2 separate regions of the Homo sapiens genome follow, and region 2 is linked to region 1. Evidence: fine-mapped expression QTL. A gene starts in region 1. The other region holds a variant in brackets. All regions are shown on one strand. Distances are from middle to middle. Region 1 holds the start of RPGRIP1 (RPGR interacting protein 1). Region 2 overlaps RPGRIP1 (RPGR interacting protein 1).

Region 1 (4,527 bases):
GACCAGCCAGGCCAACATAGTGAAACCTCATCTCTACTAAAAATACAAAAAATTAGCTGGGTGTGGTGGCGGGTGCCTGTAATCCCAGCCACTAGGGAGACTGAGGCAGGAGAATCTCTTGAACCCGGGAGGCAGAGGTTGCAGTGAGCCAAGATTGTGCCATTGCACACCAGCCTGGGCAACAAGAGCAAAACTCCGTCTCAAAAAAAAAAAAAAAAAAAAATTAACAAAAGTCAGAGGTTCAGAAAAGAGAACACGATTATCAAACACAAACTTGGCTTACTTCAAAATTAATTTTGTCCTGCACTGTCTCTGGCTAGAGCATCTTAAAAAAGGACAGAAAATCCCAGATTTATCAAGAAATAGCTTGGGCAAGAAGCAACCTTAAGTGCATAAAAGCCCAGCTTTTAAATTTTATAAATCTGTCATTTAAACCTGGTAAAATATTATATTGAATTTTCCTCTCTTCACTGGGAAATGTATGTGTCCTGGATACTTTCTCTACTTCCTAATTGTCTCCCTAGCTTTATTTTATTTTATTTTATTTTATTATTTCATGGGATTTAGAGGAAGTCACATGGGGCCCATTAACTATGTGTTCATCCTCCTGGAAATCCCCGAACCTCATGCCAATAACCAGAATGGAGCTTTCTCAATGCACCCATTCAGTGCATTAAAGAGAGGATTTAGGCCAGTCGTGGTGGCTCAGGCCTGTAATCCCAGCACTTTGGGAGGCCAAGGTAGGTGGATCACCTGAGGTCGGGAGTTCGAGACCAGCCTGACCAACATGGAGAAACCTTGTCTCTAGTAAAAATACAAAATTAGCTGGGCGTGGTGGCGCATGCCTGTAATCCCAGCTACTCAGGAGGCTGAGGCAGGAGAATTGCTTGAACCCGGGAGGCAGAGGTTGCAGTGAGCCGAGATCGCACCATTGCACTCCTGCCTAGGTAACAAGAGCGAAACTGCATCTCAAAATAAATAAATAAATAAAGAGGATTTTATGTAACAATTGAGACCGTATTCCACTTAATATATAATATGAATGCAGTGACCAGCCTTGCAGAATTTTTAAGAACATTTAATTTTCTTATATCAAATCCTATTGCTTCATAATTACATCCCAAAGTTTGGTTTCAAAACGGTGGTCACGGTGAAATGGAAGATATACATTCTCTTACTCGAAAGCACTGGCACATGTGGACTGAATAGGCATGTTGATCCCACCAACGGTGCAGTGTTTGTTCTCTTCAAAGGGATCTCAGGGCTTCAGAACAACTCCCACTGTTGTTGCCCTTCAGATAAAGATTTAAAGAATATCGGCCGGGCGCGGTGGCTCAAGCCTGTAATCCCAGCACTTTGGGAGGCCAAGGCGGGCAGATCACCTGAGGTCAGGAGTTCGAGACCAGCCTCAACATTGAGAAACTCCATCTCTACTAAAAATACAAAGTGAGCTGGCTGTGGTGGTGCATGCCTGTAATCCCAGCTACTCGGGAGGCTGAGGCAGGAGAATTGCTTGAACCTGGGAGGCAGAGGTTGCGGTGAGCCGAGATCGCGCCATTGCACTCCAGCCTGGGCAACAAGAGTGAAACTCTGTCTCAAAATAAATAAATAAATAAATAAAAGATTTAAAGATCATCCTCTGAATACCAACAAATTTCTTTTAATCTCAAATCCCGCAAATGTGTTCTCAGCTTTAGTTTTAGTTGAGAAGTGGATCTGTTAAGGACCCTTTAAGCTGCTCTTTCTCCAAGTCAAACATGCATAGAGAAAAAGCACAGCCTTCACACACTCTGATCTACAAAGAGTTAACATCTTAAAAGCTAAACAGAACTGGATTAGCTCCTCTTTTAACAAGCCAGAAGGACAAGCTTATTGGAACCTAGAGTACTAAAGGACACCAGAACATTGAGAGAAAAGAATTAGCGACAGCTATCTGGAGCAAGCAAGAACTGTAAGTTTCTATCTGATGCATATTTATAGTTTCCTATGTCTTCCCTAGGGGTGTTTTTGAGAAGAATGAAATAAGTTTATTCTTTTTTTTTTTTTTTTTTTTGAGACAGAGTCTTACTCTGTCGCCCAGGCTGGAGTGCACCGGCACTATCTCTGCTCACTGCAACCTCTGCCTCCCAGGTTCAAGCGATTCTCCTGCCTCAGCCTCCCAAGTAGCTGGGGACTACAGGCATGCGCCACCATTGCCCGGCTAATTTTTGTGTTTTTAGTAGAGACGGGGTTTCACCATGTTTGCCAGGCTGGTCTTGAACTCCTGACCTCAGGTGATTCACCCGCCTCGGCCTCCCAAAGTGCTGGGATTACTGGCATGAGCCACCGCGCCTGGCCTGGTTTATTCATTTTCTATTGTACCACCAGTCTCCCAGGCATCCAGCACAACATTACCAAGTCATCTTTAATCCTGTCACCCTCTTAACTCTATCTCACGTCCAACCAGTTGTCACATCTTTTGATTCTCCTTCCTCAGTGTCTTCATGATCCATCCTATTCTTCCATCCCCCACCCCCCTCCTTCCCTAGTTCAAGACTTCTTGCCTGAACTATAGCAATATCCTCTTAACACTGTTCTCTCCCCAATTTCCAAATCACTAATAGTAGATGAATCTTCCTAATGCTCTTCCATAGCTCTAATTATATTGCTCTTTTGCTCAGAAATGTATCCACTATCTGCAGAATGAATAAAACTCCTTTTCAAATTAATTAATTTTTAATTGACAATTTGAAATTGTATATATTTATTGTGTAAAATTTGTTGCTTTGAAATATATATATAGAGAGAGTGGAAAATGGCTACCTTGGGCTTTTCTTTTTTTTTTTTTTGAGACAGAATCTCTCTCTCTCGTGAGGCTGGAGTGCAGTGGCTCAATCTCGGCTCACTGCAACCTCTGCCTCCTGGGTTCAAACAATTCTCCTGCCTCAACCTCCCGAGTAGCTGGGACTACAGGTGCGCACCACCATGCCCAGCTAATTTTTGCATTTTTAGTAGAGACAGGGTTTTACCATGTTGGCCACGGCCAGGATGGTCTTGATCTCTTGATCTTGTGATCTGCCCGCCTTGGCCTCCCAAAGTGCTGGGATTACGGGCGTGAGCCACCACACCTGCCCAATCTTGGGCTAATTAAAATATGTATTACCTCATATGCTCATCAATTTTTTGTGTTTGATGAGAACACTTAAAAATCTACTCTTGGCCCAGGCGTGTTGGCTCACACCTGTAATCTCAGCATTTTGGGAGGCTGAGGCGGGTGGATCACTTGAGATCAGGAGTTCAAGACCAGTCTGGCCAACATGGCAAAACCCTGTCTCTACTAAGAATAGAAAAATTAGCTGGGCGTGGCGGCTTGCGCCTGTAATTGCAGCTGCCTGGGGGGCTGAGACATGAGAATTGCTTGAACCCTGGAGGCAGAGGTTGCAGTGAGGCGAGAGCATACCGCTGTACTCCAGCCTGGGCAACAGAGTGAGACCTTGTCTCAAAAAAAAAAAAAATAAATAATAATAATAATAATAATAATAATAATAATCAGAGTAAGGGGAACTGGCTACAAAATTTTAAATGCTTGCCCAGTGATACAGAGTGTAAAAAAGAAAAAAAAGAAGTCTGGGCAGGGTGGCTCATGCCTGTAATCCCAGCACGTTGGGAGACCGAGGCTGGCGGATCCCAAGGTCCGGAGTTCGAGACCAGCCTGGCCAAAATTGTGAAATCTTGTCTCTACTAAAAAATACAAAAAATTAGCTGGGCATGGTGGCAGGTGCCTGTAATCCCAGCTACTCTGGAGGCTGAGACAGGAGAATCGCTTGAACCCGGGAAGCGGAGGTTGCAGTAAACTGAGATTGCAACATTGCACTCCAGCCCAGGCAACAATGTGATACTCTGTCTCGAAAAAAGAGGAAAAGAAAATTTTAATTGCTGATGTCATCAAGCTGGCTTTATACGTCTATCCATCTATCACTAGTAAAGGGTTCTTCACCCTCACTAACCTATACTTGTCCAAGTGCACTGCAATTCTGAATATCACTGCAAGGAAATTTTTTTTTTTTTAAGACGGAGTCTTGCTCTGTCACCCGGCTGGAGTGCAGTGGCGTGATCTCACCTCACTGCAATCTCTGCCTCCCAGGTTCAAGCAATTCCCCTGCCTCAGCCTCCTGAGTACCTGGGACTACAGGCACGCACCACCATGCCTGGCTAATTTTTTTGTATTTTAGTAGAGACGGGGTTTCACTATGTTGACCAGGATGGTCTCGATCTCCTGACCTCATGATCAGCCCGCCTCAGCCTCCCATAGTGCTGGGATTACAGGCGTGAGCCACCACGCCGGGTGGAAGTTTCTTCAGTCTTTCATCCTGTTGAGTTCAAAACAATTGATAAACCCTTTTAGAATCTACATTCCATTTTTTTTTTTTTTTTTTTTTTGAGACAGAGTCTCGCTCTGTCTCCCAGGCTGGAGTGCAGTGGCGTGATCTCGGCTCACAGCAAGCTCCGCCTCCCAGGTTCACGCCATTCTCCTGCCTCAGCCTCCCC
Region 2 (4,000 bases), 40 kb after region 1:
AAGATGCTAGTTTTTGTTTGTTTGTTTGTTTGTTTGTTTTTGAGGTGGAGTTTCGCTCTTGTTGCTCAGGCTCGAGTGCAATGGCACGATTTCAGCTCACTGCAACCTTCACCTCCCAGGTACAAGCGATTCTCCTATCTCAGCCTCCCAAGTAGCTCGGATTACAAGCATGCACTACCACGCCTGGCTATTTTTTTTTTTTTGTATTTAGTAGAGATGGGGTTTTACCATGTTAGTTAGGCTGGTCGTGAACTCCTGACCTCAGATGATCCACCAGCCTCAGCTTCCCAAAGTGCTGGGATTACAGGCGTGCGCCACTGTGCCCGACCTGCCAGTTTTTAATTTATTATGTTTTTTAAACGTTCAGTTTATTGAAAGTTTTCTTTTGTTTGGTTTGGTTTGGTTTTGTTTCTGAGAGAGTCTCACTCTGTCACCCAGGCTGGAGTACAGTGATGCGATCTGGGCTCACTTCAACCTCTGCCTCCCAGGTTCAAGAGATTCTCCTGCCTCAGCCTCCCGAGTTGCTGGGATTGCAGGTGCCCACCACCACACCCAACTAATTTTTTGTATATTTTAGTAGAGACGAGGGTTCACTATGTTGGCCAGGCTGGTCTGAAACTAACCTCAAGTGATCCACCCGCCTCAGCCTCCCAAAGTGCTGGGATTACAGGTGAAAGCCACTACACCTGGCTGAAAGTATTGAAAGTGAATTTCTTTGTCTTTTATCCTTCTCATCATTTTAGAGGTAACTGGAATACTTTTTTTTTTTTTTGCCATCCAATTCTTGAAATTGAGTAGCAAATTACTATTCTTGGTTACCACTGCCAGTTCACCCCCGTCTTAACTCTTGGATCTCAGGAGATAGGTATTTGGAACATTTTTAAATACTGTCAAAAAGACCTTCATCTTACTACTTTTTCCTAGCCTGGACCTTAATATTTAGTTTTATCAAATTTATATCTCATCAAGTTTTAGTGTATTCAAATAGGGAACGGAAGGAAAAGAAATGTGTGAAATCAAGAAAAATAGAGGCAAGAACCATGTTTAGGAGCACATGCCAATTAGTATGTTTGAAGCACAAATGAAGTCTTGTAAGGACCTTCAGGGCAATCTAATTTAATCCCTTCTCTAATGCATGATGGAAATGATCTGCTCACTAAACACCGATTACCTTTATTCCCTGAAAAACACACACACAGCCTGGTGTGGTGGCTCATGCCTGTAATCCCAGCACATTGGGAGGCCGAGGCCAGCAGATCACATGAGGCCAGGAGTTTCAGACCAGCCTGGCCAACATGGTGAAACCCCATCTTTACTAAAAACACGAAAATTAGCCAGTCGTAGTGTCGTGCGCCTGTAATACCAGCTACTCAGGAGGCTGAGGCACAAGAATCGTTGAACCCTGGAGGCATAGGTTGCAGGGAGCCAAGATCGCACCACTGCACTCCATCCTGAGTGATGGAGTAAGACTGTCTAAAGAGAAAAACACACACACACACATTGGAACACAGAAATGCCCATCCTCCATCCAGGCCAGGGTGGGTGTGAAGATGGGTGCCACAGAGAGCTAGTAACCTAGAAGTCAGAATGGAGTGGGGGTGGAGTTGGTGAGATACTGGTTTCGATGCTGCTGTCAAAAAGTTTGGATTACCCTAGTCAAGTGATTCCCTTTCTGTTTTGTGTTGTTATTGTTATTCCACTTTCCACTCTACCATTCTGCAGGTGTCTTTTGTTTTCGGAGTGCAAGTAGTATCACCTCAGTTTACTGAGTCAATAAGCTAGAGTCCTCCTCTGTAGAAATAATAGAGAATTGCTTCTCAAATTTATAACATTAATTAAACCTTAGTGGGAAGATTAAATTCACACTTGATCCAACTCTGACCATGGTGATAAATAACTACAGAATTTCACATTTCTGGATTATTTTTCCCCAGCCCAAAATGAGGATCTGAAGCTTGAAGTCACCAACATACTTCAGAAGCATAAACAGGAAGTAGAGCTCCTCCAAAATGCAGCCACAATTTCCCAACCTCCTGACAGGCAATCTGAACCAGCCACTCACCCAGCTGTATTGCAAGAGAACACTCAGATCGAGGTAAGAGCCTCTTTAAACAAACTAGTCCACTCTGCAGAGAGATCTCTGGCAAATATCTCTAGGGAAGATGATGAGATTAGAAAACTAACTAAATAATATTTTGTCCTGACTGAGGACACTCTTTTTTTTTTTGAGACAGAGTCTCGCTGTCGCCCAGGCTGGAGTGCAG[T/TG]GGCGCGATCTCGGCTCACTGCAGGCTCCGCCCCCTGGGGTTCACGCCGTTCTCCTGCCTCAGCCTTCCGAGTAGCTGGGACTACAGGCACCCGCCACCTCGCCCGGTTAATTTTTTTGTATTTTTAGTAGAGACGGGGTTTCACCGTGTTAGCCAGGATGGTCTCGATCTCCTGACCTCGTGATCCGCCCACCTCGGCCTCCCAAAGTGCTGGGATTACAGGCGTAAGCCACCGCGCCCGGCCCACTCTTTTTTTTTTTTTTTTTTTTTGAGATGGAGTTTTGCTCTTGTTTCCCAGGCTGGAGTGCAATGGCGCGATCTCGGCTCACTACAGTCTTTGCCTCCCAGGTTTAAGCAATTCTCCTTCCTCAGCCTCCCGAGTAGCTGGGATTACAGGTGCTTGCCACCACAGCCGGCTAATTTTTTGTATTTTTAGTAGAGACAGGGTTTCGCCATTTTGGCCAGGCTGGTCTCGAACTCCTGACCTCTGGTGATCCGCCCAACTCAGCCTCCCAAAGTGCTGGGATTACAGGCACGTGCCACTGTGCCCTGCTTGAGGACACTTTTTGGAAAACTGTGAGAAGGCAGAGCGTAGAGAACTTCATGAGCTCCACCCATTTCTTCCACTCTTTGCAGCTCATAAAATTTAGAATCTTTTTCAGATGAGGACTTGAAAAGATCTGTGGAAGAGCAAACAGCCATTAGTGGCTGTATCATCTCCCTTCACTGCTGCTACTGAACATGAGAACTAGGGGAAAGAGCACTTGTGAAGTCATACAGGTCCTTGTTTACATTTTGGAGTAGTTTCTGCTGCTGGCATTTTACTACTACCAACAACTGTTTTATGGAGAATCATTATTACTTTACCTGTCATATTTATACTCCCTTTTACCAATGCGTTTCCCTCTACAGCCAAGTGAACCCAAAAACCAAGAAGAAAAGAAACTGTCCCAGGTGCTAAATGAGTTGCAAGTATCACACGCAGAGACCACATTGGAACTAGAAAAGACCAGGGACATGCTTATTCTGCAGCGCAAAATCAACGTGTGTTATCAGGTGCAAGGAAAGATGGTACAGGAAGGGGATGGATAACAGGAACGTGGGAACCACTCACAGGACTGGGAATGAAGCAAGACCTAAGTTTCCAGGGCTGATACCAGGTGATGTGCTATCCTGAGCAAACACACAATGGCTGTCCTTTGAAGAACTTGAGGACTCACACATGCCCACGGCACCTTGGCACTAGGAGCCAGTGATGGGGCCAGCCCATGCCAATGGCAAGCGTAAGGCTTCTGGGTTCAAATTTTGCCAGTCCTAGGAACCACCCTACCTCAATGATAGCACAACTAGTCTTGGAGGGGTCTGCAAGGAAATCAAACCTTCTTCTAGTGGGTGAACCTGCCCAGCTAAGGATAGCAGTCTTCTTGACCTAGCCAGTGCCACATTTTTTATGCTCTTTGGTTTTAGGCCACTGAGATAGAAAAGTTCAGACATTATTTTGTTTCAGGAGGAACTGGAGGCAATGATGACAAAAGCTGACAATGATAATAGAGATCACAAAGAAAAGCTGGAGAGGTTGACTCGACTACTAGACCTCAAGAATAACCGTATCAAGCAGCTGGAAGGTATTTTAAGAAGCCATGACCTTCCAACATCTGGCAAGTCTTAGTCCTTTGTTCTCCTCACTTCGGGACCCTTCCACAGCTAACGCCTGTGTTCCACTCTGTGTACTTGTC

The links. PIP is the estimated chance that this variant, and not a neighbour inherited with it, causes the effect.
Region 2: its variant is fine-mapped to the expression of RPGRIP1 in lung (TOPMed, PIP above 0.99).

Annotation. Positions count from the first base shown.
Region 1 is chr14:21,278,209-21,282,735 of GRCh38, forward strand. It overlaps RPGRIP1 (RPGR interacting protein 1), which reads left to right and starts at 1,875. Exons shown (of 25, transcript NM_020366.4): 1 at 1,875-1,951.
Region 2 is chr14:21,318,083-21,322,082 of GRCh38, forward strand. It overlaps RPGRIP1 (RPGR interacting protein 1), which reads left to right. Exons shown (of 25, transcript NM_020366.4): 12 at 1,935-2,095; 13 at 3,177-3,320; 14 at 3,772-3,922. Among named protein-coding and RNA genes, the nearest start is that of RPGRIP1, 40 kb to the left of the region's middle. The variant T/TG (reference allele first, on the strand shown) is at 2,265.